Linked DNA regions of Homo sapiens. The protein of the gene in region 1 purifies or fractionates together with the protein of each later gene. This does not show direct contact. Each region holds a gene or a part of one and is shown in the gene's direction. Other genes may lie near its edges.

Region 1 (3,823 bases):
GTAAAACATTTGTCATGTCATGTCCTTATTGAAAGTGGAAAAAGAAAAGATAAGCGAAAGACTATGTGTCTTCAGAACATGTTTGCTTCATGTATGGCCTTATTGGCCCATTTAGGCTTATGCCACAAAGGTCTGAGTTGGCCTCCATAGGTGAATGAGTTCACAGCCCTGGTCAGAATCATCCAGAGTGTGCCTGGATCATCAACACTGATGGCCATCCCCTCTTCCCTTTGACCTGTCACTTCCTTTTTACCACGCCTAATCTTTGCTGGGAGCAGACTGGAGCAAAGGTCCCAATAAAACCCCAATGGCAGGCCCGGCGGGGTGGCTCACGCCTATAATCTCAGCACTTCGGGAGGCCGAGGTGGGTGGATCACATGAGGTCAGGAGTTCGAGACAAGGCTGACCGACATGGTGAAACCCTGTCTCTATTAAAAATACAAAAATTAGCCGGGTGTGGTGGTGAGCACCTATAATCCCAGCTACTTGGAAAGCTGAGGCAGGAGAATCACTTGAACCCAGGAGACGGAGGTTGCAGTGAGCAGAGATCGCGCCACTGCACTCCAGCCTGGGCGACAGGGTGAGACTCTGTCTAAAAACAAAACACACAAAAAACCCAAGGGCAGTGGCAGCAGCCCTGTGACCCATGGGGTGTGATGGTGGGCCTACCCGGGCTGGCCTCTTTTGGCCCTATAATGACAGTGGACAAGCCCTGAAGAGCCTTGCTTAGGCTGGTGCCTGCCTCTCCCTTTGCTCTGGCAGCGTGGACGGGGGTGAGCTCTTCGACCGGATCACAGATGAGAAGTACCACCTGACTGAGCTGGATGTGGTCCTGTTCACCAGGCAGATCTGTGAGGGTGTGCATTACCTGCACCAGCACTACATCCTGCACCTGGACCTCAAGGTGGGTTCTGCCCTGGGCATGCGGTAGGGGCCCCTGGTGTCCTAGCTCCTGGCGTGCTCTCACCATTGAGAGCTCTATCCACAGACAGTCCCAGCTTCCATTCCTGGCTCTCTGTCATTTTGTAGTTCTGGAGTCTGGGACAGGCCACTCTTGCTGCCTCTTGGGGCTGTAGTTCTTCCATCTGGATAATGGTACCTCTTTAAGTATTATTTGAAGATTAAGTGAAACAATGAGCTTTTCTTCTTTAAAAATATCTTTAAGATTACTTTTTTTAAAAGTTCAAAAGGGAACATAGGCTTTTGGTAACAACTATAGACAACAGAGTAGTGTGTAAAATACACAGTGAAAGTTCCTCCCGCCAGCCCTCCGTGCGGAAGGGACTTCTCTGTGAGCAAGCTGGCATGACTCACAGACACACAAAAGGAGATCCTACGATGCATTCTTCCCTCCCTCCCTCCCCCTCTCTCTCTTTCTTTTCTTTCTTTCTCTCTCTCTTTCTTTTCTTTCTTTCTTTCTTTCTTTCTTTCTTTCTTTCTTTCTTTCTTTCTTTCTTTCTTTCTCTTTCTTTCTTTTTCTTTCTTCTTTCTTTCTTTCTCTCACTTTCTTTTTCTTTCTCTTTCTCTTTTCTCTCTCTCTCTCTCTTCTCTCCTCTCTCCTCTCTTTCTTTTTTGGAGACAGGGCCTCTCTCTGTTGCCCAGGCTGGAGTGCAGTGGTGCCATCATATCTCACTGCAGCCTGGACCTCCCAGGCTTAAGTGATCCTCAGTCTCCCAAGTAGCTAGGACTACAGGCACGTGCCACCACACTTGGCTAATTTTTGTATTTTGTATAGAGACAAGGTTTCACCATGTTGCCCAGGCTGGTCTTGAACTCCTGGACTCAAGCAATCCTGCCTCAGCCTCCCAAAGTGCTGGGATTACAGGCATGAGCCACCACACCTAGCCCAGATGGCTGCAAATGCCATTAATTCATTCCTTTTTATGGCTGAGTAGTATATGGTACTGGCATAATAATAGGCGCTGAGTGGTATATGGTACTGGCATAAAAATAGGCACATAGACCAATGGAACATAATCGAGAACCCAGAAATAAACCCTAATACTTACAGCCAACTGACTGACAAAGCAAACAAAAACAAGTGAAGAAATGACACCCTATTCAACAAATGGTGCTGGGATAATTGGCAAGCCACATGTAAGAGAATGAAACTGGATCCTCATCTCTCACCTTATACAAAAATCAACTCAAGATGGATCAAGGACTTAAATCTAAGGCCTGAAACTAAAAATTGTAGAAGATAACATTGGAAAAAATCCTTCTAGACATTGGCTTAGGCAAGGATTTCATGAGCAAGAACCCAAAAGCAAATGCAATAAAAACCAAATGTTTGAAGAAGAATTAACACCTTTACAAATTCTTCCAAAAATAGAAGAGGAGAGAACACTTGCTTCTCATTTTATGAGGCTAATCTTATCCTGATACCAAAATCAAAGACATCACAAGGAAAGAGGGCTACAGACCAAAATCCCTTATGGATATAGATGCAAAAATTCTCAATAAAGTATTAGCAAACTGAATAAAACATATAAAAAGGATTATATTCATGACAAAGTGGAATTTATCCCAAGAATGCAAGGTTGGTTTAACATATGAAAATCAACCAACGTAATGGGCCATATTAATAGAATAAAGGATGAAATCATGTAATCATTTTAATAGATGAGAAAAAATAATTGACAAAATCCAAAAACTTTTCATGATGAAAATAATAAACAAATGAGGAACAGAACTTCCTCAACCTGATAACGGCCATTTGTGAAAAACCCACAGCTGACACTATAGTTTGTAGTAGGAGACTGAATGTTTTCTCCTTAAAATCAGGAATAAGACAAGGATATCTGTTCTTGCAACTTGTATTAAACATTTTACTGGAGGCTATCACTAGGGCAATTAGGCAAGAAAATAAAAGGCATTCAGATTGGGAAGGAAGTAAAACTGTCTCTATTTGCAAATGACACGCTCTTGTATATAAAAACTCTTAAAGAGAGGAGACTATTAGGATTAATAAATTCATCAAGGTTGCAGTATACAAGACAAATATACAAAAATCAATTGTATTTCTAAATACTGGGACTGAACAATCTGTAAATAAAATCAAGAAAATAATTTCATTTATGACAATATCAAAAGAAAAAATACACTTAGAAATATACTTAGAAAAAAATTAACAAAATAAGTGCAAGACATTCTCTGAAAACTACAACAAAATGTTAAGATAATTCAAAGACCTAAATAAATGGAAAGGCATGCCATGGTCATGGATTGGAAAATTTAATATTGTTAAGGTGACAATACTCCCCCATTGATCTATAGATTCAACATAATCCTTATCAAAGTCATAGCTGGCTTCTTTCCAGATATTAATGAAATCCTAAAATTCAGATGGGAATTCAAGGGACCTAGAATAACAAAAACAATCTTGAAAAAGAACGAATTTGGAGGACTAACTTTTCCCAATTTTGAAACTTTCTACAATGCTACAGAAACCAAAACAACGTATTACTAATGTAAGGTTAGATATGTGCATCAAATTAATACACTTGAGAGTCTAGACATAAACCATTACATTTATGGTCAATTGATTTGTGACAATGGTGCTATGACAATTCAGTAGAAAATTATAGTCTTTTCAACAATTGTGCTGGGACCCCATGCTAGGGAGCTACATGTGAAAGAACGAAGTTGGACCCTTACCTCACACCATATACAAAAATTAATTCAAAATGGATTGTAGACGTAAATGTAAGAGCTAAAACTATAAAATTGTTAGAAGAAAACATAGTAATAAATCCTTATGACCTTGGATTAGGCAATGGTTTCTTAGATATGACACTAAAAATATAATTAAAAAAAGATAAAT
Region 2 (4,254 bases), on another chromosome or scaffold:
CAAAAAAATGCTAATCATACATGAAACTTATTGACAAATCTGACTAAAGGTAAGAAATTTTATTCATCAAAGACACATAATAGACTTGAAATAAAAACCATAGAGTGGGAAAAGATATTTGCAATACATATATCTTAAAAAGGACTTATGCCCAGAATATATGAGAAACTTCTGCAGATCAATAAGCAAACAGGCAAATGCCTCCCCCCAAAAAAGTAAAAAGGTTTGCATAAGCCCTTCACAAGATTGTATCCTAATGGCTGATAAACATGAAAATGTGCTCAAATTGTTTAATCATCAGGGAAAATGCTAACTAAAATTACAATATCATATCACCATACACTAACCAGAGTGGTTTAAAATGGAAAAGATAGCATCAAATGTTGACAAGAATGTGGAGCAACTGGAACTCTCATACTTTGCTGGTATTAGTACGACTACTTGAGAAAACTTTCTCATTATCTGCTAAAGCAAAATATATGTGCACATCTTAATGCATAGCAATCCAACTCCTTTGAATATATTCAACATAAACACATATATGTGGTCACCAAAAGACTAGTACAAGGATGTTTATACCAGTACTACCCCAAAGAGCTTAAACCTGGAAAACAATGTTCATCAACTGGAGAATGAATAAATAAATCATAGTATATTCATACAACAGAATGATATAAAGCAATGAGAATAAAACAAATAAGAACAAGATGCCACAGATCAATTTGCTGAACATAATATTGAGGAGAAGAAGCCAGACACACGAGAGTAACAATCTATAACTCCATTTGTATAAAGTTAAAAAAAAAAAAAGCAAAAAAAACCTATGACAACAGAAGTCAGGACAGTGCTTATCTTTTGGGGAGAGGGTGGTAACCAGACAATAGCAGGTGGGGACTTGGGTTTGGGTAGTATTTTTAATCTAGGTTCTACTTACAGGAGTGTGTTCACTTTGCGAAAATTCATTGAGTTATACACCTATGATTTGTGCCATTTTCTGGGTGTTATTGGTGTTTACTTCAAAGTGAAAGTAATTTTTCTTAAACTTTAAATTTCTATAGATATTCCTGATCACTTATTTAATATAATCAAATAAGAAACACCAAACAAAGTGTATTTGTGTACTCAAGGGTACTTTTATGGAGATTAATATATAATTTTAGTTTTTTTCTCAAAAGTATTTTCTCACTGAAAATTAACTCCACAACATTTATTTAGAACTTTCAGCAACTAAGAGCTGGAGATACCATCGGGAGAGCTTATGTGACAAAAGGGTATGGATACACGTCAGTTAGAATTTAGGATGAAATGGCAAATACTATATGCAATAGTAAATTAGGACGCCTGGTGGCGCTGCAGGCTAAGAGTGTGGATAGTGGGCTCTGCGGATAACTCAGACGCCATTAAGCTGGGGAATCCAAACTCTAAAAGAAGGACGCATTTTAGGTAAGATCTAGTGGCTAGATCTTCAGGGTGGGCTTCGTTCTTGTGGAAATCAGTCAAGAAAGATCGGATTCGCGGTTATTTATGCAAATCATCTGGGTGGATTGTGTACGGAGTTAAACTGCGCCTTCTGGACCGGGTCTGAACAATGGAGACTGCGCTAGCAAAAACGCCACAGAAAAGGCAAGTTATGTTTCTTGCTATATTGTTGCTTTTGTGGGAGGCTGGCTCTGAGGCAGTTAGGTATTCCATACCAGAAGAAACAGAAAGTGGCTATTCTGTGGCCAACCTGGCAAAAGACCTGGGTCTTGGGGTGGGGGAACTGGCCACTCGGGGCGCGCGAATGCATTACAAAGGAAACAAAGAGCTCTTGCAGCTTGATATAAAGACCGGCAATTTGCTTCTATATGAAAAACTAGACCGGGAGGTGATGTGCGGGGCGACAGAACCCTGTATATTGCATTTCCAGCTCTTACTAGAAAATCCAGTGCAGTTTTTTCAAACTGATCTGCAGCTCACAGATATAAATGACCATGCCCCAGAGTTCCCAGAGAAGGAAATGCTCCTAAAAATCCCAGAGAGCACCCAGCCAGGGACTGTGTTTCCCTTAAAAATAGCCCAGGACTTTGACATAGGTAGCAACACTGTTCAGAACTACACAATCAGCCCAAATTCACACTTTCATGTTGCTACGCATAATCGCGGAGATGGCAGAAAATACCCAGAGCTGGTGCTGGACAAAGCGCTGGACCGGGAGGAGCGGCCTGAGCTCAGCTTAACACTCACTGCACTGGACGGTGGGGCTCCGCCCAGGTCCGGGACCACCACAATTCGCATTGTCGTCTTGGATAATAATGACAACGCCCCCGAATTTTTACAATCATTCTATGAGGTACAGGTGCCCGAGAACAGCCCCCTTAACTCCTTAGTTGTCGTTGTCTCCGCTCGAGATTTAGATGCAGGAGCATATGGGAGTGTAGCCTATGCTCTATTCCAAGGCGATGAAGTTACTCAACCATTTGTAATAGACGAGAAAACAGCAGAAATTCGCCTGAAAAGGGCATTGGATTTCGAGGCAACTCCATATTATAACGTGGAAATTGTAGCCACAGATGGTGGGGGCCTTTCAGGAAAATGCACTGTGGCTATAGAAGTGGTGGATGTGAATGACAACGCCCCTGAACTCACCATGTCTACGCTCTCCAGCCCTACCCCAGAAAATGCCCCGGAAACTGTAGTTGCCGTTTTCAGTGTTTCTGATCCAGACTCCGGGGACAACGGTAGGATGATTTGCTCCATCCAGAATGATCTCCCCTTTCTTTTGAAGCCCACATTAAAAAACTTTTACACCCTAGTGACACAGAGAACACTGGACAGAGAGAGCCAAGCCGAGTACAACATCACCATCACTGTCACCGACATGGGGACACCCAGGCTGAAAACCGAGCACAACATAACGGTCCTGGTCTCCGACGTCAATGACAACGCCCCCGCCTTCACCCAAACCTCCTACACCCTGTTCGTCCGAGAGAACAACAGCCCCGCCCTGCACATCGGCAGTGTCAGCGCCACAGACAGAGACTCAGGCACCAACGCCCAGGTCACCTACTCGCTGCTGCCGCCCCAGAACCCACACCTGCGCCTCGCCTCCCTGGTCTCCATCAACGCGGACAACGGCCACCTGTTTGCCCTCAGGTCGCTGGACTACGAGGCCCTGCAGGCGTTCGAGTTCCGCGTGGGAGCCACAGACCGCGGCTCCCCGGCGCTGAGCAGCGAGGCGCTGGTGCGCGTGCTGGTGCTGGACGCCAACGACAACTCGCCCTTCGTGCTGTATCCGCTGCAGAACGGCTCGGCGCCTTGCACCGAGCTGGTGCCCCGGGCGGCCGAGCCGGGCTACCTGGTGACCAAGGTGGTGGCGGTGGACGGTGACTCGGGCCAGAACGCCTGGCTGTCGTACCAGCTGCTCAAGGCCACGGAGCCCGGGCTGTTCAGCATGTGGGCGCACAATGGCGAGGTGCGCACCGCCAGGCTGCTGAGCGAGCGCGACGCGGCCAAGCACAGGCTGGTGGTGCTGGTCAAGGACAATGGCGAGCCTCCGCGCTCGGCCACCGCCACGCTGCACGTGCTCCTGGTGGACGGCTTCTCCCAGCCCTACCTGCCGCTGCCGGAGGCGGCCCCGGCCCAGGCCCAGGCCGACTCGCTCACTGTCTACCTGGTGGTGGCATTGGCCTCGGTGTCGTCGCTCTTCCTCTTTTCGGTGCTCCTGTTCGTGGCAGTGCGGCTGTGCAGGAGGAGCAGGGCGGCCCCGGTCGGTCGCTGCTCGGTGCCCGAGGGCCCCTTTCCAGGGCATCTGGTGGACGTGAGCGGCACCGGGACCCTATCCCAGAGCTACCACTACGAGGTGTGTTTGACCGGAGACTCAGGGGCCGGCGAGTTCAAGTTCCTGAAGCCGATTATTCCTAACCTTTTGCCCCAGGGCGCTGGTGAAGAAATAGGGAAAACTGCTGCCTTCCGGAATAGCTTTGGATTAAATTAGAGATCTCGTGATGACGCGTTGTTTTCTGCCATTTATCCCAAACTTTTTCAGATCTAGAATTCGAGAGTGTCATGGACAAAAATTTCACCTTGAGATTGAGCTTTTATTTCCCTTTTTAATGGATTTGTCTGTTGAACTTCATGCTGTCCAAGTGTTGAAAAGTCAATTTTATTTCATTGCATTTATTTACATAGTGTCATTCCAAATCCATGCATGCTGTTGATTTTCCTGAGATTTTTTTCTCTTCTTGTTGGTATTTGTTGTGATAAACCACCTTA

What was found.
Region 2: the proteins of MYLK3 (region 1) and PCDHB5 purify together in Homo sapiens (affinity purification with mass spectrometry; one large-scale study listed by BioGRID and IntAct). This does not show direct contact.

What each region holds. Positions count from the first base shown.
Region 1 is NC_000016.10:46,724,317-46,728,139, reverse strand, and holds part of MYLK3 (myosin light chain kinase 3), read left to right. Parts: intron 1-762; coding exon 763-904; intron 905-3,823. UniProt on the Homo sapiens protein: Kinase that phosphorylates MYL2 in vitro. Promotes sarcomere formation in cardiomyocytes and increases cardiomyocyte contractility.
Region 2 is NC_000005.10:141,133,847-141,138,100, forward strand, and holds the start of PCDHB5 (protocadherin beta-5 precursor), read left to right. Parts: upstream 1-1,359; 5' UTR 1,360-1,588; coding exon 1,589-3,976; 3' UTR 3,977-4,254. UniProt on the Homo sapiens protein: Potential calcium-dependent cell-adhesion protein. May be involved in the establishment and maintenance of specific neuronal connections in the brain.